Regions from separate parts of the Homo sapiens genome. Here regions 1, 3, 4, 5, 6 and 7 are each linked to region 2. Evidence: fine-mapped expression QTL. A gene starts in region 2. Each other region holds a variant in brackets. All regions are shown on one strand. Distances are between the middles of the regions. Region 1 overlaps PADI2 (peptidyl arginine deiminase 2). Region 2 holds the start of CROCC (ciliary rootlet coiled-coil, rootletin). Region 3 overlaps LINC01783 (long intergenic non-protein coding RNA 1783). Region 4 has its middle 2.5 kb from the start of RNU1-1. Region 5 overlaps LOC124903858 (a long non-coding RNA gene). Region 6 overlaps CROCC (ciliary rootlet coiled-coil, rootletin). Region 7 overlaps PADI2 (peptidyl arginine deiminase 2).

Evidence for each region.
Region 1: its variant is fine-mapped to the expression of CROCC in whole blood (INTERVAL, PIP above 0.99).
Region 3: its variant is fine-mapped to the expression of CROCC in tibial artery (GTEx, PIP above 0.99). The same link has a PIP of 0.9 or more in subcutaneous fat.
Region 4: its variant is fine-mapped to the expression of CROCC in esophagus muscle (GTEx, PIP above 0.99). The same link has a PIP of 0.9 or more in fibroblasts.
Region 5: its variant is fine-mapped to the expression of CROCC in pituitary (GTEx, PIP above 0.99).
Region 6: its variant is fine-mapped to the expression of CROCC in whole blood (INTERVAL, PIP above 0.99).
Region 7: its variant is fine-mapped to the expression of CROCC in whole blood (INTERVAL, PIP above 0.99).

Annotation. Positions count from the first base shown.
Region 1 is chr1:17,112,442-17,116,504 of GRCh38, forward strand. All of the region lies in intron 1 of PADI2 (peptidyl arginine deiminase 2), which reads right to left. It overlaps LOC124903861 (a long non-coding RNA gene), which reads left to right. Exons shown (of 3, transcript XR_007065506.1): 2 at 985-1,144; 3 at 1,230-1,404. Among named protein-coding and RNA genes, the nearest start is that of PADI2, 5.0 kb to the right of the region's middle. The variant G/GTAGT (reference allele first, on the strand shown) is at 2,271.
Region 2 is chr1:16,919,592-16,923,654 of GRCh38, forward strand. CROCC (ciliary rootlet coiled-coil, rootletin) reads left to right here and starts at 2,340. Exons shown (of 37, transcript NM_014675.5): 1 at 2,340-2,487; 2 at 3,072-3,207. The coding sequence starts at 2,428. RefSeq lists enhancers at 982-1,754, 1,755-2,526, 2,527-3,298, 3,299-4,063.
Region 3 is chr1:16,531,040-16,535,102 of GRCh38, forward strand. It overlaps LINC01783 (long intergenic non-protein coding RNA 1783), which reads right to left. Exons shown (of 2, transcript NR_135764.1): 1 at 3,387-4,063; 2 at 2,852-3,170. It also overlaps the pseudogene RNU1-6P. Among named protein-coding and RNA genes, the nearest start is that of TRE-TTC4-1, 2.3 kb to the right of the region's middle. RefSeq lists enhancers at 1,215-1,740, 1,741-2,266, 2,826-3,583, 3,584-4,063, 3,839-3,888. The variant G/A (reference allele first, on the strand shown) is at 1,842.
Region 4 is chr1:16,514,740-16,518,801 of GRCh38, forward strand. No RefSeq gene overlaps it. Among named protein-coding and RNA genes, the nearest start is that of RNU1-1, 2.5 kb to the left of the region's middle. RefSeq lists enhancers at 1-196, 1-54. The variant G/A (reference allele first, on the strand shown) is at 2,280.
Region 5 is chr1:16,700,405-16,704,467 of GRCh38, forward strand. LOC124903858 (a long non-coding RNA gene) reads left to right here. Exons shown (of 3, transcript XR_007065500.1): 2 at 225-1,291; 3 at 2,551-4,063. It also overlaps the pseudogene ESPNP. Among named protein-coding and RNA genes, the nearest start is that of TRG-CCC4-1, 24 kb to the left of the region's middle. RefSeq lists an enhancer at 594-1,279. The variant T/C (reference allele first, on the strand shown) is at 2,358.
Region 6 is chr1:16,952,166-16,956,228 of GRCh38, forward strand. CROCC (ciliary rootlet coiled-coil, rootletin) reads left to right here. Exons shown (of 37, transcript NM_014675.5): 21 at 1,137-1,316; 22 at 2,058-2,192; 23 at 2,569-2,712; 24 at 3,147-3,385; 25 at 3,832-3,991. Among named protein-coding and RNA genes, the nearest start is that of MFAP2, 26 kb to the right of the region's middle. The variant T/C (reference allele first, on the strand shown) is at 1,845.
Region 7 is chr1:17,089,873-17,093,935 of GRCh38, forward strand. It overlaps PADI2 (peptidyl arginine deiminase 2), which reads right to left. Exons shown (of 16, transcript NM_007365.3): 5 at 3,695-3,812; 6 at 2,536-2,661. Among named protein-coding and RNA genes, the nearest start is that of PADI2, 28 kb to the right of the region's middle. The variant C/T (reference allele first, on the strand shown) is at 1,591.

The sequences.
Region 1 (4,063 bases), 190 kb after region 2:
CAGCTGGGGCTCATCCCCAGAGTGACCCCAGCTCCTGGCAGCCTGGGTGTGACATCCTGCTCTTGGGGCTTTAGAGGAGTCTGGGGGGGGGAGTCGTGGGTGCCAGCCTGTCATGCAACCCCATGGCGAGCAAGAGGCAGGCAAGGACCAGCGGGGAGAATGACCTCAGTCCAGACCTCACACCTGGTGCTCGGCATGGTGGTGGCTGGGGCCCTGTGGGTGGGCAGCTGCCCTGAACAGGGATCAGTGGAGGCAAACAATGACGTCTGCCTTCAGCCAGCTTCCCTCACCACCTGGTGCATCCAGCTGTCCCGGGCCTCTCCTTAGGGAAGAAACAATCTGATCTATAGCTACTCCTCTCCTCAGAAACCTTCAGTGACTCCCTGCTACTTACAGAACAAAGTCCAATGTCTGAACGATGTATTCAAAGCCTGGTTAGAGCTCATTGACCCTCCAGCCTTATACTCCAGGCCTCTGAAGCTGTGCCCTTTCTGTCTCTGTGTGCCCCAACTTCCCTGCCAGTTATCTCTGCCCCTGAGTGGCATGTTCTTGGTCTCACTCTGAACCCCAGTCCATCCTTCAAGACCCAGCTCAGTTGCCACCTCTTCCAGGAAGTCATCCCTGATCTCATCAGCCAGAATATATCTCTCCCTCCATTTATTGGTGTCTCAAACAACACTTAATAAATTCAGTTCTAGATTTCTTTCCCATAAGTGCTATGAAGTCTTTGAGGAGAGGGATCAGGTCTCATTATTACTTGTTTTCAAAATAAACTCAATACTAATACATAACAACTTACTGAGTATTTACTATTATTATTATTATTATTATTATTATTATTATTATTTTTCTAACCACTAGACCACCAGGGAACTGAGTATTCATTATGTCTCAGGCACTGTACCAAGCCCATGGCCCACATGACCTCAGCCCATTCTTTCGATAACCCCATGAGGCCCATACCACTGTGATTTCATTTTACAGATGAGCACATTGAGGCCCCTAGAGGGCAAGCACCCGCTTCAAATCTCAGGGACAGTCATGGCCGAGTGTGAGGGGAACTCAGGCTCTCTGAGACCTGGGCCTGGCTGTCCCCTCCCTGGGAGAGAATTCAAAGTCTGGAGTCTTTCCTGAGATCCCCCAGGTAGGTGTGCCTGGTGTGGGGCAGAGGGGAGGATCAGGCCTGGCTCTGAAGAGGACCAAATGAGAGCCCCTTACTTATTTCACAGGTGGGAGTCTGAGACACAGAGAAGGGACACTAAAGACTGGCTTCCTGTCCTGGGCTCTTGGGTCAATGACAGAGAGAAGCAAGCCTGGGCCCATCAAAGCCTCTGGGTGCAAGGTCTGGCGTGGCTGGGCAGGAAAGAGCTGCCTTCAAAAGCTGCCTCCTCCAAAGTGCAGCAGGTATGTCTGGCCAGCTAGGGGTGGGCACTGGGGTGAGCCCCTGCCACTGTGCTCCCATCCCAACTCAGGGCCCTGCAGTCAATGAGGGAAGGTCTCAGGGACCCCAACTATGCAGGGACTGTGAGCCTGGTTCTCCTTAGAACACTCCCAACCCCAGGAAACTAGCCTGAAACCAGAGCCCTGGAGCAATTCCTGGCAAGGCATCCCGTTTGGGGTTGAGGGCTCTGGGTGCTGTTCTAATTTATGGGCCACCTGACCTGGCCTGAATTCCTCCCACCGTCATTCTCTCAGGAGCAAGCGCTGCTCGGGCCAAGCTTGGCCACATGCCCTTGACCTTCCACAGGCCCATCCAACGGTGCCTGTCCCTTGAGGCTGGGGGTGGGGAGCTCAGCCCCATGACAGGCCAGTCCACAGGCATCACAGGCCACATTCATTCATTCATTCGTTCATTCATTCATTCATTCAGGGAGCCCTTCATTGACTCCAGGGAGGATCACAAACAAGGAGGAGGCACGCCTGAAACATAAGTACCAGGAGGGCAGCCTGGCAGAGCAGGCAGGGGCCTGGGCTCTGCACCCCACAGTTTACTGGCTGTGCCATCCTGGACAAACACTCCTTCCTTCAGTTTCCCCAGCTGCGAAAAGGGGACAATAATTGTACCTAACTCATAAAGTTGTTGCAAGGTTTAAATACGTAAATTATTACATGTCCGTGAGATGAGCATGCAAAGTGTTGAGAAGCCTGCACAAAATAAGTGTTCAATAAATGTCAACTAGTAACATTAAGAAACGATGAGAAGTTGTGCAAAGAAAAAAATGTGATGAAACAGAGTTCTCGGGACTCAGGGTAGGGCACCACGACATGGG[G/GTAGT]TAGTCAAAGAAAGCTTCCTGGAGGAGGTGACATTGGAGCTGAGACTTGACTGATGAAAGTCAGGCTTGTGGGGATCTGGGGGATGGTGTTCCAGGCAGAGGGAACAGCAACTGCAAAGGCCCTGAGGTGGGAATGAGCTTGGCACAGCCAAGGGCTAACAGCATCCACAAAGCCAGCGTGGCCGGAATGGAGTGTGTGCTGAGGAATTGCTAGAAGAGGAGATCAGTGAGGTAGGGCCTGGCACACTATGGGGAGGGGAGCCCATAGCACCCCAGGCCCCCATCATGGAAAACTGGATCTCAGACCCTCCTGGCCTTTGTCCTAATGACACTTTTTAAAAAAGCAAATACATCTCTAGCCTTCACACCAACCAAGAGACAGAAAGTCTGGGAGTGAGTTTGTGCCAAAGTCTAGGAGCGCCTGCCTGATACCTTCTTCCTATCTTCTGCCAGCGAGTTATGGGCAAATTATTACTATTTACTTGATATTACTAGCTGACATTTATCTTCTTTCTGTCTTCTACTGGGACAATGGCTGGTCAGCCTCTGCCTTGGGGAATCCCAGGGAAGGGAATCCTCCCACCTCCACCTCACAGACGCAGCTGGAACCTCTGCACAGGCAAAGGGACAATGTTAAGATCATTCCAGTGTCCTGAAGCTCCTGCAGACCTCAGGATCTGGATCCTGGCTCCTGTACACCAGGGAGGAAAAGAAGAGCCCTGCCTTCTCGAGAACTCTCACTGACAGAGGCATAAGCCGAGGGAGGAACAGAAGAAGCCATTCCCAAGGCCCAGCTTGTGGGCAGAGAGTGACCACCCTGCTACCTACTTTACTCCGAGGCTGCCCTGTCCCTAATAATCCTTCCAGACTCTGGGAGTGTCCATGCCTCCAGGGCTCACAAGAGGTGGGTGGCCAGGATGGAACCAACCTAGGGACTCCCTCTGTGCTCTCTTTCCAACTTCAAGCCCAAATCAGATGGGGACCCAGGCCAGCCCCACTGAAGAAGTGACTGTCGGCTAAAGGGACCACCGGAGGAGATTGTGTGGGCCAGGTGTACCTGTGCCAAGACTAAGATGAGTATATTTGGGAAGAGCAGAAGGAAACAGCGAGTATCTTTAACAACAATCACAAAGTACAATTTCTAACAAACACCCTACTTCCTTCTTTCTATGTATCTATTCATTGCTTGCTGGAGACTAGCAGTCAGAATGAGGCTAGGTCAAGGCATCCATCCCCAGGGGGGCCAGTTTTGCTGGGAGAGCGTGGGTGGCCCAGAGCACCCCTGCCCATGGTGGCCTGGATGACCCCTCATAGGGCAGCATAGTGGTCAATTGTTCATCACTGTGACCCTGAGTGTACATCTTCTATTGAATACAAGATCCTTCCTCCTGTTCTCTGATCGACCCCCATTTGGGTCAGTGGAGACTCAGAGAAGTGAAGCGATTTGCTCAAGGTCACACAGCCCGTGGATGGAAGCTGGTAGGGCAGTGCCTGCCAGGACCACAAGGTCTATTGAGGAATGAGGCTGGGGAGGCCCCTGCTATGTGTCTGGAGGGGATCCTGTGTGCCAGCATCACAGGAAAGGGAGTCCAGAGCCCTTGGGAAAGGGAGTGGGTGCTGAGGCCGTTTCGCTCACCTTTGCGACTCAGAAGGAGTGAGGGTCAGGATGCCACTCCGTAATTAACTGGGCCCAGCACCCCCGGGCCTTGTTCCTTGGGGTCTACTTGGAGGCTCTGGGGGCATCACTTGGGGTCTTGAGCCAGGACCTGTGTCCGGGCAGCAAAGGACTCAGG
Region 2 (4,063 bases):
GAGCTCCTCGAGTGAGCAATTCCTGTCCTTTTTTAGGGCTTACAACTCTAAGGGCAGGAGCCCAGACACGTGATGCTAATGACAATAGGAACAGTGGCCCCCATTGGCTAATAGCTCACCACCTGCCAGGTGTGGTAGGTACTATCAGTCGCATTTTTTTGTTGTTTTTGGTAGGACAGAGTCTCGCTATGTTGCCCAGGCTGGTCTCAAACTCCTGGGCTCAAGCGATTCTCCCATTTTGGCCTCCCAAAGTGCTGGGATTATAGACCTGAATCACCACACTCGGTCTAGTCTCATTTTATTTTATTTTATTTTTTTGAGACAGACTCTTGCCCTGTCACCCAGGCTGGAGTGCTGTGGCACAATCTCGGCTCACTGCAACCTCCTCCTCCTGGGTTCAAGTGATTCCCCTGCCTCAGCCTCCTGAGTAGCTAGGATTATATGCACATGCCACCACGCCCCAGCTAATTTTTTTTATATTTATTTATTTATTTATTTATATTTTTGAGACGGAGTCTTACTGTGTCGCCAGGCTGGAGTGCAGTGGCATGATCTCGCCTCACTGCAACCTCTGCCTCCCAGGTTCAAGCGATTCTCCTGACTCAGCCTCCCAGGTAGCTGGGACTACAGGTGTGCACCACCATGCCTAGCTAATTTTTGTATTTTTAATAGAGACGGGGTTTCACCATGTAGGCCAGGATGGTCTTAATCTCTTGACCTCCTGATCCGCCTGCCTCAGCATCCCAAAGTGCTGGGATTACAGGCCAATTCTTGTATTTTTAGTAGAGATGGGGTTTCACTATGTTGGCCAGGCTGGTCTCAAACTCCTGACCTCAAGTGATCTGCCCGCCTCAGCCTCCCAAAGTGCTGGAATTAGAGGCTTGAGCCACTGCACCTGGCCTGGTTTAGTCTCCTTTTAGAGATGAGAAAACTGAGGCTCAGGGAGGTAACCTGTTCAAGGTCTTACTGTCTTGAACACCATAGTTGCAAGTGACAGAGCTGAGTCTCACATGCAACCTCAGACCTGATACTGACTCCAGAGCTGTGCGCCTAAGCACTAGAGCACATAGCCTCCTTGCCCCAGGGAAAGAACAATGGGAGGTGGTGGGTGACCTCTGGGTCTCAGGGCCCTGGGATATAGGGACTGTGCCTTTTTTTTTTTTTTTTTTGAGACAAAGTTCCACTCTTGTTGCCCAGGCTGGAGTGCAATGGCGCGATCTTGGCTCACTGCAACCTCTGCCTCCTGAGTTCAATCGATTCTCCTGCCTCAGCCTCCCAAGTAGCTGGGATTACAGGTGTGCACCACCACACCCGGCTAATTTTTGTATTTTTGGTAGAGACGGGGTTTCACCATATTGGTCAGGCTGATCTTGAACTCCTGACCTCAGGTGATCCACCCGCTTTGTCCTCCCAAAATGCCGAGATTACAGGCATGAGTGCCTGCGCCTGGCTGGGACTGTACCTTCTGGATTTTCAAATGAATGAAATGAGTATTTCTTGAGTGTTGGCCACGTGACCCCCCAGCACCATGTCATGTGCTGGGTATGCACACACGATACTGTTTCATCCCCGGACGGCTCCGAGAGATGAGTACCAATATTATCACATCTTACGTAAGAGGACACTGAGTCTCAGAGAGGCAAAGTCAGTGTCCCTGGTGCACCCAGCTAGTGGGGGCTGGGGTGGGTGTGAAGGGGCCAGAAGCTTCCCAATAAGTGCCTGAAGGGCAAGGCTAGGGCATTTGTAGTTCGAGGCTCTACCACTGTGTCTAGGTCAGACCTAGGAATGCCGCAGGTGTTGCATAAATGCTCATCAGTCCAGGCTGGACCGCTCATGCCCAACTAAGTGCCAAGCCTGGCCTGGGTGATCTCACAGCCTGCATTCTTTGCCCTACACCTGTTGTGGGAAAACATACTCCCAGCATGCTGTAAATCCTCTCATTCTTAGCTAACCATGTGACTCCCGTTCTGGGCCAGAAAGATGGTCACAAATACTTAGGACTCTGGCCTTTCCCGCCGCATGGCTACTGACCCCACCCCCTGGGCTTGGAGGGCTCTAGGACCCAGCAACCTGCGCAGGGTGAAGAGTGTGTGAGGTCCTGACCTCCAGGTGTCTCCCCTGTTTCCTCCTCCCATTCCCTCTTCTCTCTCCTCCCTCCTTTTCTCTCCCTTCTCCTCCCCTCTCTTCATCCTTCCTCTTCCTTTGGCTCCCTGCCTCTGCTTCCCTCCTCTCCTGTCCTTTCCCATCCCCTCCCTCCTCAGCCCACATCCTGCTCCTCCCACCGCGGTGGTCACATGGGGGCGCCGCCGGATTTAAGCTTAATCTGCCTGGTGCTCAGCACAGCATCCTGGCTGTGGCGCGTGCTGACTGAGCTAGTCTTGGGGTCCTGGAGAAGGGGGCTGGAGGCATGCCCACAGCCTCCCCCCCATGAGCTTGGGGCTGGCGGGGGCACAGGAGGTGGAGCTGACACTAGAGACGGTTATCCAGGTGGGTCCTGGGGGCTGTGCCCACCCTGTCTGGGGCGGGGCAGCGTGGACTTAACAGGAGTGGTGAGAGGTGTGTGCGTCTTGGGGATCAAGGGGTGGGAGAGGTGTGGTGGTGGTGGGGTATACAGGGGCCCCCCGCTTGCAGTTCCTGGCAAGATGGGGGGCAGAGGTACACACAGGGTGCACCTGCTGTGGCTCCCTCATCCCAGTGCCCTGGGTTGGGAGAAGGGGGTCTCTACTGCCAGATTTTAGGGCTTGGGGGACCTCTGGCATAGCCAGATCCTCATCCATCTAGGGTCGGAACCGGATTGGGGCCCCCAACACTGGACTGCCTCCAGTGGGGTTTGGGAGTTACCCGTAGGGTTTGGTTCTCATCTCTGGCCCTGGGCCTTCTTCCTGGGGCAGTGAGCACACAAGAGGCTCTTTGCATGGGGATTTTTTGGATTCTAACTCCCAGGCTTCACTCCATCTTGAGGGGGCTCCTGGGGACCTGTATCTTGGGCAGTAGGATTCTGTGGCTCTCCCCACGAGGCCAGGGAGCCCCGGGTCCCATGTCCCCTGAAGACCCTCTCGCTTTTCCCACAGACACTGGAGAGCAGCGTCCTGTGCCAGGAGAAAGGCTTGGGCGCGCGGGACCTGGCCCAGGACGCTCAGATCACCAGCCTGCCTGCCCTTATCAGGGAGATTGTCACCCGCAACCTCTCCCAGCCTGAGAGCCCAGGTGCCACCCCCATCCGCTCCCCTCCACAAACACCACCCACATTTTACCTCTTCTCATGTCCCTTTCCTGAGCAGTCACCATGATGATCATGACTGTAACTCACTGTGGGGCAGGCACAGCTTTATGACAGAAGAACCCATTTTACAGATGAGGAAACAGAGGCTCAGGGATGTAATTTGTCCAGACTTATTCCGCATGTGGTGCAACTAGAAGGAAGGGCCGAGCATCTCCTGCGTGCTTGCCTGTAGCCTGCTGCAGAGATGTGAACCCCAAATCCCGTATTCCCACCCGGGGAAGGTGTGAGCTGGCTGAACCCAAGATACAGGAAGAGGGCAGCTCAGCTCAGACCAGGGTTTTGCGGAAGTCTGAGTGGATGGCGCCGTCCATCCGTTTCCCACGTGGGCAGGAAGGCGGATGGTCCCTGCTCCTCTCAGTGGGTGGCGCACACGGTGTAGTTATGTGGCTTGAGGATCTGGGAAAGGCACACTCAGTTGCAGCTGGTGTGCTGGCGTGTGGCGTTTTGGTGCTCTAACCATTGTCTGTGTTCAACTCCCAAGCTACAGACGGGCCCCCTCCTTGGGAGCGCCAGGGATGTTGGCGCCCTGGAGCCCCAGACAGGGAGAGACTCAGAGGGCCCTCACCCTGACACCTGGGGTGTATGTCCAGTTCTCCCAGGGTAGAAGGGGAACCCACAGGAGGTGGACAACCCCGCTTCTCCCGCTGGCCTTTCTTTCCCTCTTCTCTCTTTCTCCTTCTCCTCACAACCTGACCTATGCTATGCTCTCCTGAGCCCTAGCCTTTAAAGTTCCATGAAGCCCTTCTCTTGAGCGAGGCTTTGATGCTTTTCTGGGAGGAT
Region 3 (4,063 bases), 390 kb before region 2:
AAAGGTTTTTCTAAGTTCGAGAGTCCTGAGGCAAGGGATGTCCCTGGCTTTTCTTTTAAGGCTAAGAATGCCTTTTGACAGGTTCCAAGCTCCGCCTCCTGGGTTCACACCATTCTTCCGCCTCAGCCTCCTGAGTAGCTGGGACTACAGGCGCCCGCCACCACAGCCAGCTAATTTTTTTGTATTTTTAGTAGAGACGGGGTTTCACCGTGTTAGCCAGGATGGTCTCTATCTCCTGACCTCCTGATCTACCCACCTCGGCCTCCCAAAGTGCTGGGATTACAGGCGTGAGCCACCGCACCCGGCCAACAAGTTTTTTTTTTTAAATGAACAGAGCATCAGTGAATGATAGTGCAAGTTTAAGACACCTAATAGACAAGTTAAAGGAGTCCTCCAGGCAGAAGGAAACTGACACCAGATGAAAATGTGGATGAAAAAAAAAAAGACACTAGAAATGACATCTACATAGGCAAATATATAATTTTAACATCTGACTGTTTAGCTGGGCACGATGGCTCACGCCTGGAATCCCGGCACTTTGGGAGGCCAAGGAAGGCGGATCACTTGAGGTCAGGAGTTCGAGACCAGCCTGGCCAATATGGTGAACCTTCCTCTCTACGAAAAATTCAAAAATTAGTCATATATGGTGGCGCAAGCCTGTAATCTCTGCTACTCAGGAGTCTGAGTCAGGAGAATCGCTCGAACCCGGAAAGCAGAGGTTGCAGTGAGCCAAGACTGTGCCACTGCACTCCAGCCTGTCCGATAGAGTAAGACTCGTCTTAAAAACACCACCACCAGCAACAAAAAAGCAAAAACAAACAAACAAACAAACAAACAAACAAACAAAAACACATCTGACTCTTGAAACAAAAGTAATAGAGATGGATTGTAAGGTTTATAACAGGTGTAAAGTAAAATGCATGACAATAGCATAAAGGCAGGGGGAGGAGTCATGTGAAGAGGTATGATGCCACTTGAAGGCAGACTGTGATGGGTTAATTTTTGTGGAAAGCAAGGCAGAATTTTTGAAGTTTGTTTCTTCAAATACTTTCTGTTTCCCGTACATACAAGCTAGTTTGTTCTGCAGAGATCTCATTTTCTAGGAGGCTCGGAGGGGGACCTTCTGCTGTCTGTCCTCATGGGATGCACAAGACACAAGGGAACAGTCTTTCACTTTTAAATACATTGATGGGTCTGAGGAGATAGATACAACTGCATTTTTTTTTTAAATGAGGTGGGATTCTCATTGGTCTTGAACTTCTGAGCTCAGTGGAGGCTTCCCCTACTTCAGCCTTTCAAAGCGTTGGGATTAATAGGCATGAGGCACTGCGCCTGGTCACAACCAACGTTTAAAATCACGTCCCTGGGTGGTCTGTAACCACCAACCTTATGGTTAACAGCCGAACGCGCTAACCGATTGCACCACAGAGACAACCTCAATCGCTTGCTTTCATCTCTATATAGATTAAGCAATCACTAAACCCTAGGAGTTGCCATTTGCTTTCTGCGGGACAACTGTGCAGACTACAAAGCTTCAGAAAACCGGAGAGGCTGAGTCGACTAATCGTGTTGTTGCACGTTAGAAACGCGTGCATTGCGTGACTCTGAAGCCAGAAGGGCGGCCGAATGGCCTTCACCCTGCGTTCACCCTCGCCTGCTTCAGAAGCCAGTGCCTCTGGAAATGCCTGGATCTGCGACCCCAGCCTGAGCCAAGTAGGGCCCAAGGGAAGCTGAACTCCCCGACGTCTCTCATGGTAGCTCTTTCTGTTCTTTTGCGCCGCCTTCAGGCAATCATCTGTTCCGCTTGCTCTCCCTTCACTCAACTCGGCTTCAGTAGATGG[G/A]GTCGGTGGGGCGGGAGCGGGAAAGAGGCAGGGGAGTCAAAAGGGAAAACGTGAAAAGGAGGAGGGAGAAGCAGGGGAGACCAGGACTAGACAATGGGACAGCCCAGGATGCCCGTGCAGAGGGCACCGGCTGGATGCAGAGAAGATGGGACATGTATCAGATCGGAGAGGAGGAAATGGGGAGAAGATGTGAGAGAAAATCACAAGAACCTGTAGCTGCCCAAGAATAAAGAAGTAAAAATCGCATAATGTTTTTACATTAATAAAAAAAATCGGGGGACCAGGGGCGGTGGCTCACGCCTGTAATCCCAGCACTTTGGGAGGCCGAGGTGGGTGGATCACTCACTTGAAGTCAGGAGTTCGAGACCAGCCGGGCCAACATGGTGTAAGCTCGTCTCTACCACAAATACAAAAATTAGCTGGGCGTGGTGGTGCACGTTTGTAGTCTCAGCTACTTAGGAGGCTGAGGCAGGAGAATCGCTTGAACCTAAGAGGCGGAGGTAGCAGTGAGCCGAGATCGTGCCGCTGCCCTCCAGCCTGGGCGACAAAGCGAAATTCTGTCTCTCAAAAAAATATATAAATAAATAATAGAGGGGTGGGGAAGCAAAACGACGGGCAGTAGGTGTGGGGCGCCTTGGGATTCTCTAGTGGTTAGTAGTCTGCGTTGTGCCTGCAGCAACCTCTGTTCTAATCCGAATCCTGGTACAGTCAGACTCTATCTTGGACCCACTGGGGCGAACCCACGTGTCTTTTGGTTTGCTTTTGATTCCTGCACCAGCTGAGGCCTTTATCTGCAGCCAGAAAGCCGGAAAGCAGGGTTTACCCCTGGCCCCACAGCGCCATACTGTCTGGGGAAAAGAAGGAAACCCAAGAGTACACAAACAGTGGCCCAAAGAGAAACCTTCCAAGTGCTCTATGCCTCACCGTTTAGCAGAAAATATCAAGCAACTCTCAATCTAGCTGGTCTGTACCTTCCACGAATGAAATAATGTATTTATTGCAGTCTTTCTGGTTGAGATATTTCAAATATTTGGTGGAGCTTTTAATGAGAGAGACACTCTCGAGTGTGGAAGAAAAAAAAGAGGGGATGTGAAGATAAGGCGACTTTAGGACAGAAAAAAAAAAAGAGACAAGGAAGCCATGTAAACGTTTTTGGATGGGCGTGAGGCGTTGTCAGTCTTGAACCCCGTTATGTCAGGTAAAGAGCGCAGCCTCTTCTACCACAAACACCATTTCCCACATGGAGGAAATCACAGGGATCAGCAACTCTAGAGTGAGATGAAGAAGCTTCACTCTGGGAGAACCCCCTTCGTGACCACGGTCTCTCCCCTGCCAGGTAAAGTGGAAATGAGCACATGGCTTGCAGGGACAGCACAGCCTCCTCGCCCTGGCCGGTCGCTCAGGGTCACCACCCTCCCCACTGCCGCCCCTCGCCATTCTTCCAAACCACTCTCCACCAAAGATTCCACCGACAGTCACCCCACAAGACAACCCAGGCCGCCTCTCAGCAGCGGCTCCCGCCCCGCAGCCACCGCGCCCTCTCACCCCCGCGCGGTTCTGCCCGCCGCCTCTGCCGAGTCTGCGCACTTCACCTCCCTGGCTCCCGCTCTCCCCTGAGCTTACAGTGGACTCGGGGTTCTTCCGAACCCCTCTTGGGAGTACTGAATGGAAAAGGGGGAGCGTGCGCAAGTGCTTGGTAGAGTGTAGACGTCGTGGGATTTGACTGTGGTACAATCGCTTCGACGTCCTAGTGCTGATTTTTCCACCTGCCTTCTGCTTAGGGCACCGGCAGCAGTTTTCCGTCTGTGCCTACTCCACCTGCTGTCCTTGTTGGGTCAGCGAACATCGCCTCCCTCTACCGCTCAATCAGCAAACGGGACCGCCCTCGAGGACCTCACCCGCCGCTTACCCCCCTAACAAATTCGCGGGCATCGCCTCCGGTCGCCTCTTCCCAAGGCCTAACGAGCGCCTTCGCTGGCAACGGAGGTGAGGAGGCTCCGCTGACTGGCTGGTGCCCGTGTCCGGGGCTGCCACAAACGCCACGACTTGGCTTGGCCTCTCTCTTAGTTATTCGCAGCTCAGCCCGATGGGCGTCTCCGGGGTGGCGACGGGAAAGAAGGTGGGCTTATTGGGTGCAGCTCCACGGGGGCTGGCATCTCTGCCGGGCTGTGTACACCTGAGCGAGAAGCTCAGTCGCTCTCTAAAGCTGCTCCCGCGGATGA
Region 4 (4,062 bases), 400 kb before region 2:
ATGGCTTTTAATTCGCAGACTAGAATGTTTCGGATTACAAAAGAAACCGGTTCTCTTCACATCCTTATCCTTGTGATGCAGCATTCCGCTTGCATTTGGAAGCCGTTTAATATCAGAGAGAAGCCATATTTATGAAAGTAAAGAGGCTGCTCAGATGACTGCAAACCAGCCTTCCTTACTGGTTTTATCACTGGTAATGTTATAAAGACAGTTGTCCAGTTTCATGAATCTTGTAGGTTTTTTTTTTTTGATGTTGTTTTTTTTTCAAAAATCCGTATTGTAGAAAAATATGCTGTCCCAGAAGAGATGATTGGACACTCTCAAGCGTGGTGCTGGACTTTGTCATCTCTTGCACAGCCATCTCCACACCTTAGTGCTTACCTCATGTTAGTTTTTTATATTCTGCAAAGACGAAACCAAAATAATCCAAATTTGACACAAATACCTGGGCTACATCTTATTTGAGATGTTTAACAAATGTCTGGATCATCTTTTCTTATATATTACGCAGGAAACACTGTGAAGTAAGCAAAGTTGGAATGCCCAAGTGAAAGACCATTTGAATATTTACAAGTAGATTTCAGACAGGAATACTACAGGGTGGTCACAGGATAACAAATTCTAGGCAGCAGATTTACATGACTTGAGGCTGTGGGCTGTTAAGACGCTGAAAAACCAGGGTGTGGACCAAGCTGGCTAAGGCTGAGTGGACCCAACGTGGTGCTGGATTGGATGGAGGTTTTACCTAGGCCCTCATTATATGCTCATTAACATACTAAATCACACACCCGCCAGTGCCATGACAGTTCTGAGACCAGTGTTTGATGTAAAAATGGCACCACAGTTCCAAGAAATCTCCACCTTTACCCAGGAATTTTCGTGAACATTCCACTCCTTGGTTAAAGAAACCCATCAAGATGAAACCCCAGAACCCATTATTCTCTCTTGGGTATGCCCAAGCTCCCCTTTCTTGAGAGTGTACTTTTTGCTTTGCAATAAATCTCTTCTTTCACTATCTGCTGACTCATCTTTGACTTTGTTCTCGCGATGGTGTCAAGAGCCTGGACACCACGGCTGGGGTCGAGATCCCACCAGTGTCCAGGGACCTCCCCCAGCCCACCAGTATCAGATTCTATTCCATTGCTCAAATCACAAAACATCGAGTGGAGAGTTCTCTTTGGAGACCGTAAAGTAAAGATTCTGTGGCATGGTGGCCAGTTAGGCCACTGGAAGCATGGCAAAATATTGAAAATGAGGGATTGGGTGACAGTGTAGTAACTGCTGAATACTAAATACTTGATCCAGGCCCCATTCCCTGGAGATTGACAGGGAGACACATTGTCCAGGTAGTAGTGGAGAAATGCTTTCTGGGTATCTGACCAGCCTTTGTGGAAAGAACTGGCACCATCCTGCAGATGTAACCACCTGATGGGTTCTTCCTGACCAATGTACACAAAAATTCAATTCATGGAGACCATGGCACTGCAGGAAAGAGTTTCATTGACACAGGCCAGCCACGACATGTGGGAGACAGAGTTATTACTCAAAGCAATCTCACTGAAGGCTTGGAGGTAAGGGGTTTTTCAAAGATAGTTTGGTGGGGAGGGGGCTAGGGCTTGCGTGGTGCTGATTGTTGGGGATGAAATCACAGGGGTGTGGAAAATGGCCCTCCTGCATGGAGTCAGCTTCTGGGTGGGGGCTAAGGGACTGGTTGATTTTCGGGCCAGATGGTGCCTTCCAGCAGTCAGAAATGCAAAAGCCTGAAAAGACATCTCAAGAGGCCAATCTTAGGTTCTACAATAGTGATGTTCTTCACAGCAGTAATTGGGGAAGCTGCCAATCTTGTGACTTCTGGAATAATGGCTGGTAATTATTTAACGAGGCATACATCTTAGTAGAAATCAGGCCCCTTTCATCCTTCTAACTTGGTGGCCTTTCATTCATTTTACAGGGGTAATTTAGTTTTGGGGAAGGTTATCATTTAAAGCAGCCTTTTTGGCTGTCCTCAACCTTTTTGTCACCAGGGACTGGTTTCATGGAAGACAATTTTTCCATGGAAGGGGGTGGTGGATGGTTTCCAGATGAAACTGTTCCACCTCAGGTCATCAGGCATCAGTTACAGTCTCATAAGGAGTGCGCAATCTGGATCACTCACATGAGCAGTTCCCAATAGGGTCCGAGCTCTGACGAGCAGCTAATGCTCATGCTGATCTGACAAGAGGCAGAGCTCAGGTGGTAATGCTCGAAAGCCTGCAGCTCACCTCCTGCTGTTCAGCTGG[G/A]TTCCTAACAGGCCATGGACCAGTACCTGTCTTATGGCCCTGGGGATTGGGGAGTCCTGATTTAAACTATAAACTCTATTTTTCCCAAAGATAGCTTGGGAGAAATTGCACAGGAATGAGCAAAGACAGCAAGCCTGTGAGGCTAGAACCAAGATGGAGTCAGCCATGTCAGCTTTCTCTTGTTGTCATAATTTTGCAAAGGTAGTTTCTGAGGGGCTGCACTGGACACTTCTTAAAAACATGAGACAGATGTTATTGTATTTACTACAGTAGGCAAGAGAGACCAGCAGAGAACTGGGCTCAACCTCGAATACAGCAGGAGGAGTTGAAGATTATAGCCAATTGGCAAGATAAGAAAGTCAGTGGATGGAAAATTACTAAGAGGAACTTGATTAGCTATCAAAGGTGGTTGCGAGGACTCTTGCTAAACTAGACTCAACAGTATTCTTTCCTAAAACTGGACTTGGCAGGCAAAGAAATAACAGAGAAAAGGGCTCAGAGGAAACTACTAAGGTTTGGTCAAAGACTAGAGTCCTTGTCAACTCTACATTGAAGCTTCTGCAAATAAACAAAGACCAACCAAATGAAAAAAAGCAAAAGCTATTTATTCTGAGCTTGCTATAGCAGGGAGTCAGTCACTGTTATTTGTGTTTTGGCAGAGACTTGAAGGCAGTCATAAAGGTGGGAAAGCTTTTTAAAAAGAAAGGCTTCAGGGGCCGGGCACGGTGGCTCACACACATAATCTCAGCACTTCGGGAGGCCCAGGTGGGTGGTCACGAGGTCAGGAGATCAAACCATCCTGACTAACATGGTGAAACCCCATCTCTACTAAAAAATTTACAAACAATTAGCCAGGTGTGGTGGCAGGCACCAGTAGTCCCAGCTACTCTGGAGGCTGAGGCAGGAGAATGGCATGAACCTGGGAGGCGAATCTTGCAGTGAGCCAAGATTACACCACTGCACTCTAGCCTGGGTGACAGAGCGAGACTGTGTCTCAAACAAACACACAAACAAACAAACAAACAAAAAAACAAAGAAAAGCTTCAGGTATGCTTGGATTGGAGGCTGTCAGCATGGTGAAGCTGTTGATAGATGAAGAAAATCAAAGTATTTTACCCCAGAATATATTTCTTTGGCATATTTTAAGATGGCTGTCAGAGAGCCAGCAAACAGAAGGAACTCTGCAAAACTGTCTTTTGTAGGGGAAATTTACACCTGCAGAGAATCTGCATTAATCCAGCTTTATCTTGTCAGGTTTGAGAAATAAAAATAAGCCCTAGGCCCTACAACCAACTGAATGGACTCCCTCTTGGCTGACAGGACCACAGAGAAACTTCGAAAGCAGTTTCTGGATGTGGCAGGCTAGGAGGTTGGACATGCCACCTCAAAACCCTCCCCTCACTAACTGCCATTATGATGCAGGAGAACAGCAGAGGGAATTGGAAGTTGGATAAAAGGCAGAGTGAGTGAAAGCAGAGAAAGAAGCAAGGTGATGGGGTGGGAGAGCAAGAAGCAAGATATAAGGCAGAAGTTGAGCAGCCAAAACAAAAAGTAAGATTTAAAAAAGCAAGCAAGGCTGGGCACGGTGGCTCATGCCTGTAATCCCAGCACTTTGGGAGGCCAAGGCAGGCAGATCACCTGAGGTCAGGAGTTTGAGACCAGCCTGGCCAACATGGCGAAACCCCATCTCTACTAAAAATACAAAAAATTAGCTGGGCGTGGTGGTGCACTCCTGTACTCCCAGCTACTTGGGAGGCTGAGACAGGAGCATCGCTTGAACCCG
Region 5 (4,063 bases), 220 kb before region 2:
GGACTGCGGGTCCCCAGGGCTCCGCGGAGCCCTGTCTTTCGGGGGTCCCGGGCCGGAGGGAGCCCCCTCCAGAGCCTGTGCTCTCCGAGGCTCCGGCTTGCCCCGGACCCCGCTTGTCCGTCTAGGGGCTGCTCCAACCTGCCACGGTGCTGGTGGTCCTGCTGTGCACCTGGCGGCGGGGGCGGCAGGACCCGACACCTGCTTTACGTGATACTTCCTCTCAGGTTACAGACGCCCGCGCACGGCCAGCCTATGGGCTCCGACGGCCTGACATCACCCGGGGCCCGCCAATCCCAGGCCGAACCCCCCCCAGCCGTCGCGGATGCCACGGGGGCGCCAACTACTCTGCCACACCTGGCCGCGGCTCTGCACCCGCCCCGGGCCAGATGTGACCCCGCCCCCTGCGCCTCTCCCTAAGCTGGGAGCTGAGCCCCCACCTTCATCCCCGCCCGAGAGGAGAGAGGGCTGACCGTGGGCAGAGGGGGCCTCTCATATTTGGCTGCCGGCTCCGGGTCGCGTCCCCACCGTTTCCCTCCTGCATCTGGAAACCATCGCCATCCACGAAAGCGACACCGACACCCGCGCTCAAGCCTCGGATTTCAGGGGCCGTAAGGCGGGGTCGGGTGACAGCGCGGCTTCCCGCCCCGTCGCAGCTGCCCCCAACTAGGCCCAGCTCAGTGAGGGAGAGTGAGGCGGCCGGGCCAAAGACTGAGTGACCGGGTGGGGGCTGTCCCCTGCCCCACTCTCCAGCCCATGCGTCCCTGCGGTGGCCTCAGACCCTTCACCCCGCCCGACCTGGCTCACGTTGCAGGAAACGCGACACCGCAGGATTCGTTTTCTGGGCCAGCCCGCCGGCTCCGCGCCCCCTGCAGCCCGGAGGCTCCGACGCCACGACCCTGCTCCCACCTGCGGTCAGGCACCCGCGCGGGAGGCGCCGCGGCGACACAAAGAGCCCTTTGTAGAGCTTCCCGGCCCGGGCCCTGGCGTCTGCGGCCCAGCACGCACACAGCCGGGAGGGACGCACACAGCCGGGAGGGGGCTCGCACAGCCAGGAGGTGACCTCACAGACCTGGCACTTGGGCTCAGCGGTGGAGAGGGGGCACTGGCTGGGCCACCTGTCCTGTGGATTTGGGCGGGGCCCACAGTCTGCGCCGGGAGCTCAACGATTCCAGGGCCCCTGCAGCCCTACCCGCCCGGCCCCCTCTGCCTCCCAGAGATGAAAGGGGAAAGCCACTGTGGGAGCTTGGTCTAAGGTGGCGTGAAGAGGGCAGCTACTGGAGCTGGCCTGCAGGTTTGGTGTCCCTCCCATGCCTCCCTTGCCCACTGGCCTTGTGACCTGAGTCACCTTGTATGAATTGGCCCTGGGGTGGCTTTGCCTTGGGCTTAAGAGAGAACTGCAAGGTCCCAGGCTCCAGCAGGACCCCAGGGAGCTGCCACACCACATCTGGCCACCTGTGACCTCAGGCTGTCCCCTCACCTCTTAGACCATCCTTGCTCTGTTCCTGTGGCCAGAACGCCAGTGTTCCCCAGGGCACCCTGCCGAGGATACCCGCAATTGCTCAGACCAGACCTCTGCCCCAATCCCTGCTCCAGAGCCTCAGCCAGGCGCCTGCAGGCCCCAGACATCCCTAGGCACCTCACACTTCACCTACCCACCCTGCCCTCATCCTCTCCACACAGGCTCGCTTCCCTCCAGGGCTCCCAGCTCAGGCCTGGCCCTTTCCCCCAGGAGCTCAAGCCCTAAACTGGAACCAGCCACAGCTTCACTTCCTCCCAGCCCCTACTGCCGGTGGGCGCCCAGCCCTGCTAGTGCCTGCTCACCTTCCTCCCTCCCTCCTTCCAGCCCTTACCTCTACAGCCATGCCACTGGCACCTTCCACCTGGCAGCCACCTCCCTTGGGTGACACTCTCCGACTGAGCCTGGGGCTGTGGGGGTGGGGGGGCATGCTTGGGGAGGGGCAGTCTCCATGCATTCTCTGTCAACTCCATGACAACCCGGCCACTCCTGTGCAAGAGGTGGCACAGGCCCAGTTCCTGGTGAGGAACAGCTGTCTGGACCTGCGTCCTTCACCCCCCAGCTCCCATGGAGGGCAGTGACCTGCTCTTACTCTCCTCCCAGTCCAGTGTCCAGCCCTGACCCCTCGTGGGACTCGCCAGGAGCTTTGACTCTTGAATATGCCATGGACCCAGGGACCCCCACCCTGTGCCCACTAGTGAGGCCAGGCCTTTGGCCTGACTGGCCCCCATCAGCCCAGTACCCCTGCTGGGAGGCAGGCAGTGGGTGAGGGCTCACTACCTCCTTCTTGAGGGCCTCTGTCTCCACGTGGCGGAGTTTGTTCTTGGTCTGCATGTAGATG[T/C]CAGCTGCCTGTGGTCCCACAGGAGGCTTGGGAGATGGGTAGCTAGGTGGGGGTGGGGGCAGTTGGGTGCCTGGGGGCGGGGGTGGCGGGGGGAAGCTGGGTGGGGGTGGTGGGGGTATGGGCTTCCCAATCGTGCCCCAAGGCAGGCCCAGCTCTGGGTTCAGCATGTCCATGTAGCTCTGTATGTCTGCAGCTCTAGTGCTGGAAAGCCCTGGGGAGGCAGAAGGAAGGGCCAGATTTGGAAGCATGCAGACAGCCTTTCCCCCAAGAATGAGACTCTCCACCACCTGGAAACAACTTGCCGAGGGCCAAGGTGGGCTCCGGGCACCACTTGGTACACCTGTTGTGGCCCCTGGCGTTGCTGGGCTTCCTCTCCCTGGCCCTGCCCTGCCCCAGCCCAGCACTTATTGGGGGAAGACCAGGCACTCCGGTTTGGAGGGGAAGCACTGGAGGCTTTGGTGTGTCTAGAGGGCAGGGTCACCTGGAAGGGGAGGGTCTACTCCTTGGGAGTACAGATGGCCACATCCAATCTTTGCAGGGCACCCTGCCAGGTCTGGAGGCCACCATCTGGTGGCGTGAAGCAGGCATTGCAAGTGGATGGACGCCCATGCTCAGGGCACGGTCAGGGTGTGTGTACACACAAGCCTGCAGTCTGCCGAGGCGATTGTGAATTTGTGTATGTTTGAGTGTGTACGCATTTGTGCACATGCTTCTTTGTATTGATGAATGTGTGTGCATTGCTCTGTGGACATGGTGTGTGTGTGTGTGCATATCTGTAGTATGGAAATAGAGCATTGTGTGCTTGTGTGTAAGGTGGGTGTGTGCAGATATTAGCATGGCTCTGTATGTGTGTTCATATCTGTATGCTGTGTGTACACATGTACAAGTGTGTGCTTTTGTGTGTGAGTAGCTAAGAATAATGAATGGTGGGTGGCACACGTGGATTTTGTGGGTGGGGAGAGTACATGTGGATGTACATGTATGTCTGTGATGAGCACACACAAGTATGAGTGACATCTGTCTCTCACCAGAAAGGGTGTCGCCTCCCCATGTTTAAAAGCAAGTGATAAGAGTAGTCTCCGATATTGGCTGTGGCAGGCTGGCCCAAGGCCAACCCTCACAGCCCAGCAGTCTGGCTTCAGTCTGCTCTCCCTCCCCCTCTTCCTCCTGGGCACACTCACCACGTGGAGGGTGCTGGCCCTTGATGCTGGAGTGGCTGGAGGAGCAGGAGTCGTAGTTGGAGAGGGTGCTGGTGGGCGAGCTGAGGTCAAAGTTCAGAGGCTGGACCGACACCGTGGTGTTGGGTGAGGACATGCCTGAATCCGGCTGCTTCGCCTCCAGCTCCACGGATGGATCCCGGGAGAGCACGCAGTGCTCCATGCTCTGAAGGGGAGGCAGGGAGGCCATGAAGGCAACTGCACCCCAAGATGCGTTGCTCTCCAGGCCAGGGTCCTACTCAGCCATGCCTTTGCCGTGGGATCTTGGCCAAGCCACACCCCTCTCTGGGGTCTCTTCCCCATCGCTAGAGGGTCTTTCAGGTTCCTCCGGGTTAAGATTCAAGCCCAGCCCCGCCAGGCAGAGGACCCAGGTTCCTGGGAAACTCCCTCCCCTGGCTCCTCCCTGATTAGGAGGGTGGAGAGATCGACGAGGAGGGGGCCTTGAGCTGCACCCCAGGGGGAGAACTGCCAGGAGATCGGCCTTCTCCC
Region 6 (4,063 bases), 33 kb after region 2:
CATGAGCTACGGTGAAGATCTTAAAGAAGGGGCGGTTTGGCCGGTCGTGCTGACTCATGCCTGTAATCCAGCACTTTGGGAGGCCGAGGTGGGCAGATCACCAGGTCGGAAGATCGAGACCATCCTGGCTAACACAGTGAAACCCCATCTCTACTAAAAATCACAAAAAATTAGCTGGGCGTGGTGGCACGCGCCTGTAGTCCCAGATACTTGGGAGGGTAAGGCAGAAGAATCGCTTCAACCTGGGAGGCAGAGGTTGCAGTGAGCCAAAATCTCGCCACTGCACTCCAGCCTGGGTGACAGAGCAAGACTCCGTCTAAAAAAAAAAAAAAAGAAGTGGCAGCTCTGTCTGCTTCTCACAGAGTTGCTAGGGGCAAGTGCTGAGGCAGGCACCTGCCCTCAGGCTCCCCAGGTGGGCTGCTATTTGCCTGTGGGCTCTGCCTGCCCGCCTGTCCAGTCCCCAGGGATCTGAACTCCTGTGACCTCCCCCTTGCTCTTCTTGCCCTTTGCATTGCCTGGCTTGGCCTCATTAATGTCCCCAAATCTGTGTTCTCTCCAGCTCCTCTGGCAACCCCTGACCCCCTTCATTCCTCACAGCCAGTCCTAACTCCCCTCCATCCCAACCCCAATCCCTCTTCCACAGCTGTCGGAACATCCCCTAAGCTAAAAATCAGATTGCTCCTTGTCACCTTGGCTCGAGTCCTCTCTCCCACTCCCCTCACTGTCCTTAGAATCCCCATGGCCCACACGGCCTGTCCTGGCCCCACCCCTGCCTGGGGCTCTGGCCCTGTGACTCACCATGTCCCGTTCCCCTCTGCACCCTGCATCCTCTAGGCCTTTCCAGGGGCTGTGTTCTTGGCCTGGGGTGGTCTTTTCTCTCCTTACCTGGCTGACAGTTACTTGTCCCTCCGCAGGGGACCATGTTCGGACCCCCAGGCCAGCCCACTGCTGCTCCTTGGCACTTTCACGGCCCTGGCGTGTCCCCGTCATAGCCCTTATCACTCCCTTGTATTTACCTGGTCACCCTCCATCTCTGAGGGTATGGGGGCCAGATGGCTCTTGCTGCCCTGATGTTTTGGGGGGTCTGCCTGGGCCCCCTCCTGGTGTGTCACAGGCATCCGGTCCTGGCCCCCTAGGAGGCAGCATGGCGGGAGCTGGAGGCCGAGCGGGCCCAGCTGCAGAGTCAGCTGCAGCGTGAGCAGGAGGAGCTGCTGGCCCGGCTGGAGGCTGAGAAGGAAGAGCTGAGTGAGGAGATTGCTGCCCTGCAGCAGGAGCGCGACGAGGGCCTCCTCCTAGCAGAGAGTGAGAAGCAGCAGGTTCGTGAGCCCTGGCATGGCCTCTGCTGCTCTCTGAGCTGCTCCAGTTCTGGGGCCGGGCCCTGCTCTGCCACTTGGCAGCTAGGAGCCCTGGGGCAGGCCACTGCCCTCTTGGGGGCCTCAGTTTCCTTACCTGCAGGAGGGGAGGATTAGAAGGGGGTTCGTGAGGCTTTGCTGTGCTCCATGCCTGGCACACAGTGAGCACTTACTGAGTGACAGTGACAGTCGTGACACCAGGAAAGCTGTTCCATATTCTCCCATGCCTCGTCCCACCCCACGCTGGGCATGGATCCTCATGGCTGCCTTCTGAGCAGTCCCCACGATGCCCACAGGCATCAGCTGACGTGTCCCCCCAAATAACAAATCCCTAACTTTCCTATAATGTAACGGAGACAGGGCAGACTGTGCCCATCTCCTCTCCTCACCAGCTGTGTACCTGGGCGAGTCACTTTACCTCCTTGAGCCTCAGTTTCCTCATCTGTAAGATGGGTAGAAAGAAAGACTCTGCAGTCAGGGTGCTGTGGCGGG[T/C]TAGTGAGCTCTATGAGTGGTATCCACGTCCGGGATTCTTGTGACTGCCGTTGTGCCCTTTTCCAGGGCTGCATGTCTGCCCTGGGTCCACCTGCAGTGGCACACTCAGGCCTCTAAGCCCCCAGTGGGCACATTTCCTAGGCAGCAAGAAGCCTGAGCATGCCCCCAGGACCAGCCCATCCCCCAAGCCCTTTGTCCCCTGCCTCTGCCCAGGCCTTGTCTCTGAAGGAGTCTGAGAAGACGGCGCTGTCAGAGAAGTTGATGGGTACACGGCACAGCCTGGCCACCATCTCCCTGGAGATGGAGCGGCAGAAACGAGATGCCCAGAGCCGGCAGGAGCAGGACCGGGTAGGGCAGGCTGGGCAGCTGGGCCTCTGTCTCATAGAGAGGCACATCCCTGGCTGAGGAGCCCCCACCACGGGGCGGCATGGCCCTGTCCTGGAGAAGCTTCCAGGCTGTGGGAAAGGAGGTTTAGCCCTTCTTTTGGGAGCCCCCATCTGAGGGAGGTGGCTCAGCCCTGCCCTGATGAATCCTTTTGGCGTGAGGGAGAGGCTGGCTACACGGGCAGCACTCACTATGCATCCAGGGGTTGGCAGAGGGTCCGGCAGGCCAGCGGGAGGGGCCGTGTTTAGAGCTAAAAGTGGACAGTGCACTGAGCGGGTTGGGAGCAGCCCGGGGCTGGGGGACACAGCAGGACCAAGTCTGAGGAGCCCCTCTGTCCCAGAGCACCGTGAACGCTCTGACGTCTGAGCTGCGGGACCTACGGGCCCAGCGGGAGGAGGCTGCTGCGGCCCACGCCCAGGAGGTGAGGAGGCTGCAAGAGCAGGCCCGAGACCTGGGCAAGCAGCGGGACTCCTGTCTTCGCGAGGTGAGCAGCCGCCCCCCTCTTCCAAGCAGCATACCCTAAATGGCACTGTGTGCCTGGGGGCCTAGTTCCCCAGGGCCCCAGAAGAGTGTAAGATTCCTCCCTGCATTTGAGGACCAATGAATAGCAACTTAGAAAGGAGGCAGCAAGCACTACGAAGCACCTGTTGTGTACAGGTGGGATTTGGCCTCAAGGAGGGGTGAGTGGGGTCTCTGCCCTCTTGGTGTTGTGCTCAGGACAGTCCTGATTGATGGTGACTTCAGGTCAAAACATTACTGATTACAGCACGCCTTGCTCAAATGATAACTCACAGCCTGCGGTCTGAGCACTGCAGAGGGATGGGGCAGGCTCCCTGGGTCCAGGGATCTGGGGTACAAGACCCAGCTTGACGGGGGGGTCCCTGACCGCTGCCCTGGGGACACCTGCTGTGCTCACAGGCAGAAGAGCTTCGGACCCAGCTGCGTCTGCTGGAGGATGCCCGTGACGGGCTGCGGCGGGAGCTGCTGGAGGCCCAGCGCAAGCTGCGTGAGAGCCAGGAGGGCCGGGAGGTGCAGCGCCAGGAGGCAGGCGAGCTGCGACGCAGCCTGGGCGAGGGTGCCAAGGAGCGCGAGGCCCTGCGGCGTTCCAATGAGGAGCTTCGGTCTGCTGTGAAGAAGGCAGAGAGCGAGCGCATCAGGTGGGGTGTCGCAGGAGGACCAGTCCTGAGTCCTCATGGGATCCCATCCCTGAAACCTAACTTCACCCCCAACGTTCTGGGGAAATTGCCCAGATACGGATCCTCTGTCTCCTAAGCAGAGCCTGGCACCTGGGTGATTTTAGGAAGGTTTCCTCCCTGTTGATTGGGGAAAGGGGCAGAGGGGCAGTGGGCAGCTTTGGGTCCAGACTCAGACCCACCCACCGTCATCACCCTGGAAACCAGGTCCCCTCCTGGAGTCACTGGTCTACCCCTCCCAGCCGAGGGCCTGGGCCCCAGCCCTGCAGGGCTCAGGGCTTAGCTCTTCAGAGAGGCCACATGGGCAGGCAGTGCCTGATCCACTCCAGAAATTGGAGGAGACGGCTTTTGTGTAGAGCCACTGACTACTCCCAGGACCCAGGGCAGCCCCTGACCTCTGCCCTCTCCAGCCTGAAGCTTGCCAATGAGGACAAGGAGCAGAAGCTGGCACTCCTAGAGGAGGCACGGACAGCTGTGGGCAAGGAGGCCGGGGAGCTGCGAACTGGGCTGCAGGAGGTGGAGCGCTCACGGCTGGAGGCTCGGCGGGAGCTGCAGGAGCTCCGGCGTCAGGTACTCTCCCTGTGCCACCCCTTAGCCTGGGGCTTGCTGTGTGCCCCGGGCCAATAGCTCCCCCTTTCTGGA
Region 7 (4,063 bases), 170 kb after region 2:
TGCCTTAACCTTTCTAGCTACTTTGGAATGATTCCACTTCCCAGCGAGACTCCTTGATAGTGTGACCAGCTGATTTGGTTTCCCTAGGACTGAGGGGTTTCCTGGCATGAGGAGCCCTCAGTGCTAAAATAAGGAAAGTCCTGGGCAAACTGGATTACCATTTCCTTGTATAAAGAGGTAAGGCCCCAGTGCTTGGTGTTTTGGGCAGAATTTGAGGCTAAGGCCGTTACCAGGTCTTCCTAGGAGCACTGAAGCCTTCTGTCCACTCCAATCATTGTAACTAACAGTCATCATCATAATCTCAACAAAAGCCATAATTGCCATTTATGGAGAGCTTTCCAAAGGCCAGCTACTGCACTCAGTGCCTGACACACCTTCCTCATTAGATCCCCACCACGATCCGGGACACCCGGGACAGTCGGAACTCTTACTACTCCCATGCCACGTCAGAGATGAGCACCCCAAGGCTGGGGCTGGTGAGAAGACTTGCCTGGACCCAGAATTGTAGCTCCCTGACTCCAGCACTCCCTATAGGGGTCCTTCAGTCTCCAACCCAGCCCCCTGGCCTTGGGGAGAGCTGGTCTGACCCTACCAGGACACCTGACATTCGCTCATCCACAGGGGTGCCTGGAATTTGACATAACTCCAAAGTGTTTGCCTGGAAGAAAAAGAGACTGTGCTCCTGGTCAATTATCTGTCGTCCTTTGCTTGTGTGTGTGTGTGTGTGTGTGTGTGTGTGTGTGTGTCTAAGAGTTTTCACCCAGTGACCCAGTGTCAGCATTATTGGGAAACTGTCTCTTCTGGGTCCCCACTGTCTCAGTCGTGGCTGCTCCCCACAGGATGGGCAGCCCAAATAAGAGGCTCCAAGGGACGTTCTCAAAGCCCTTGTGGTAGTAGTTCCTCTTTTTTCTTGTCTGCTCAGGACCCATCTCAGATGGCAAGTGATGAGGAGGGATGAGATTATGGAACCAGACCAGTCCACTCCCTTTAGCAAAAAGAAGAAACTTCTAGATAATGTCCAGACATCATTATTTGCAACAGGTCTCGTGTCACGACACCAAGGTCAAGAGGCCGAGGTTGAGGTCCTGCTTGCATCCCTCCTGCTCCCACTGGTGATCCCATCCTCCATGACAACCCTGGCCTGGATGGTGTCAACATCAACATCTCCGGCCCCCTGCGGCAGCGGAGCCAGCCTGACTCTGGGCACATTCCAACCTGTGTGAGGTCACTGCTTGGAGCCCAGGGTGGATCAGAAGGAAGACTGGTATTGGGTGGCTGCTGGCCACTGCCATCCTGGCTAAATATCTCCCTGATGTGAGGGTCCAGGGTCCCTACTCACCTCATGGTGAATGCCCTGGATCTAGTAGGCCTGTCTAGAGGTGGGTTCGGGGCTGGGCCAGAGATCCTGGCCCCCCTAGGCAGCTGGGCATGCAGAAGCCTCCTCCCGCCACCCCACGACCCGCCTTGTACCATGGCAAATTGCAATGCCGACTATTTTGCTGAGGGAGTTTTTAAAACACATACATCATTATTATGACAGTCCCTTGCATAAAACCCTCTAATGGCATTCCATTGCACTCAGAAGAAAAT[C/T]CAAACCCAGTCTGCATGCTCTGGCCCCTGGCCGAGCTGACTGACCTTGACTCCCAGCCCTGCTCTGGGCTTCCATCTGCTCTTCCCACACTCTAAACTGGTCTCCTCCTCCAGGCTTTGCAGATGCTGTTGCCTCTGCTTAGAACACTCTTCCCTCAGCTCACGAGTGGCTGGTTCCTTCTTATTGTTCATCTGAGTCTCAGCTCAGATGTCACCTCCTCAGAGAGGCCTTTTCAGAGGCACCCATCTAGTGGTGCCTCTGCCCTGCCATTCTCCTCACTTATTCTATTTCATTTCCTCCAATTGTGGTACTGATTATGTCTCTCTTGCTAGACTGGCGGCTCCTTGAGGGCAGGGTGTGATTGTTGTGTTTACTGCAGAGATCTCAAAGCTGAGAACAGGGCCTGGCACCAAAGGGCTCAACACATATCCACAGACAGGGTGAGGCAGAGCCGGCAGCTACGAGGACTAGCTCCAGGGCAGGAGCCCGTGCCCTACACAGTGGGGGCCCAGGACATCTGTTGCCATCGAGAGGAGCAAGGGGTCAACTCTTCAAGGGTGCCCACTGCATCTTTAGGGGGTCTTTGAAAGTCAGAGATGGCAGAAAATACCTGGAGGTGGTGCCTGCCCTGCCTCAGGTATCCTGAAGGTGACATGACTCCAGAAAAGAAGTGCCCAAATGCCCTTCCTCCCCTGATTCGTAGGGAGGAAGGGCCTCTGGGTTCTACATAGACCCATGTCACTCCAGACTCCTTTGAGAGGAGGAGCGATGTGTCCCCATGGAGTCTTTCAACTTCACGGGACAACAGCATTGCCATGTTACAATCACTCAGAGACCAATCCAGGTCTTCCCCAGGCACCTGCACCTGTGAAGGCCACAACTGCTAAGGGGAGGAGGGTAGGTGGCTAGAAAGGTCTAGGCTGGACTGGGCTGGGATCACTCACTCTCCACGTAGAACACGCCCACTTTGTCTGAGTCTGACATGGAAATGTACAGAACTATCTCGTATCCGGCGGGGAGGCGGTCGGGGCCTTTGGTCCGCAGGATCATCTGGGACATGTCCTTGAGATCTGAGGGACAGAAGGTGAGAATGAAGAGATCTATCTGTTGCTGGAGCCTCAGCTTCCCAATGCCTTTTACTTTGATAATCAGGAAAAAATCCCCATGGATGTGTATTATGGAAACTATAGAAAAGCATAAAGAGGCTGGGTGCTGTGGCTCACACCTGTAATCCCAGTGCTTTGGGAGGTTGAGGTGGGTGGATCACTTAAGGCCAGGAGACAAACACCAGCCTGAGCAACATAGCAAGACCCCATCTTTACAAAAATAAAAAAAATTAGCCACGCATGGTGGCATGTGCCTGTAATCCTGGCTACTCAGGAGGCTGAGGCAGGAGGATGGCTTGAACCCAGGGGGTTGAGGCTGTAGTGAGCTATGATCATGCCACTGCACTCCAGCTTGGGCAATAGAACAAGGCCTTGTCTCAAAAAAAAAAAAAAAGAAAAAAAAAGAAAAAGAAAAAAGCAAAGCATAAAACAGAATAAAAACCAGTTGTCATTTCCAACACTAGAGATGATTAACCTTTTGGGAATTTCCTTCTGGTCTATTTTCTTTTTATTCTTCTTCTTCTTCTTCTTCTTTTTTTTTCTTGAGACAGAGTCTTGCTCTGTTGCCCAGGCTGGAGTGCAGTGGCATGATCTTGGCTCACTGCAATCTCTGCCTCCTGGGTTCAAGTGATTCTCCTGCCTCAGCCTCCTGAGTAGTTGGGATTACAGGTGCATGCCACCACGCTCAGCCAATTTTTGTATTTTTAGTAGAGATGGGGTTTCACCATATTGGTTAGGCTGGTCTTGAACTCCTCACCTCATGATCTGCCTGCCTTGGCCTCCCAAAATGCTAGGATTACAGGTGTGAGCCACCACGCCCGGCCCTTGTCTATTTCCTATGGTTTTGCCTTTGGCTTTAAGCAAGAGTGGGAATTTGTGTCCACCATCCCCAGGAGGCCTGAGTCCACACCTGCCTCACCCTCAGCCCAGCCCAGGACTGGGCATGAATCTTTTCACTCCTCTCATCCTGCCCCCCAAGTGCAGGGCCTGCTGGCACCTTCCTTGCTGTAGACCTTCTCATCACGGCAGTCCTCCTTGGGCAACCAGGGTGTCTCTCGGTCACAGTTCACCAGCAGGATGGCCCCCTGGCCCTCGGGGCCCCAGGTCCAGGATGCCTACAGTGGCAGGAAGAAAGGTCAGTGCCCTCTTCTCTATGCTTGTATAGACCCCATGGGACACTGGAGAGATAGCCCCAGGATGAGGGTAAAGAGTAGCCGCCACCCACTGGGGCAGCTGTGACCTGGCAAATGTGAATCTCAAGACTGATGTCCACAGAGGATGAATGTGGGCATCAAAGGCAAGTTCAATAGAGGCACAGAGACAGGAAGGCTGACTGAGGCATTTATGGGCCTCCTGTCTGGTGCAG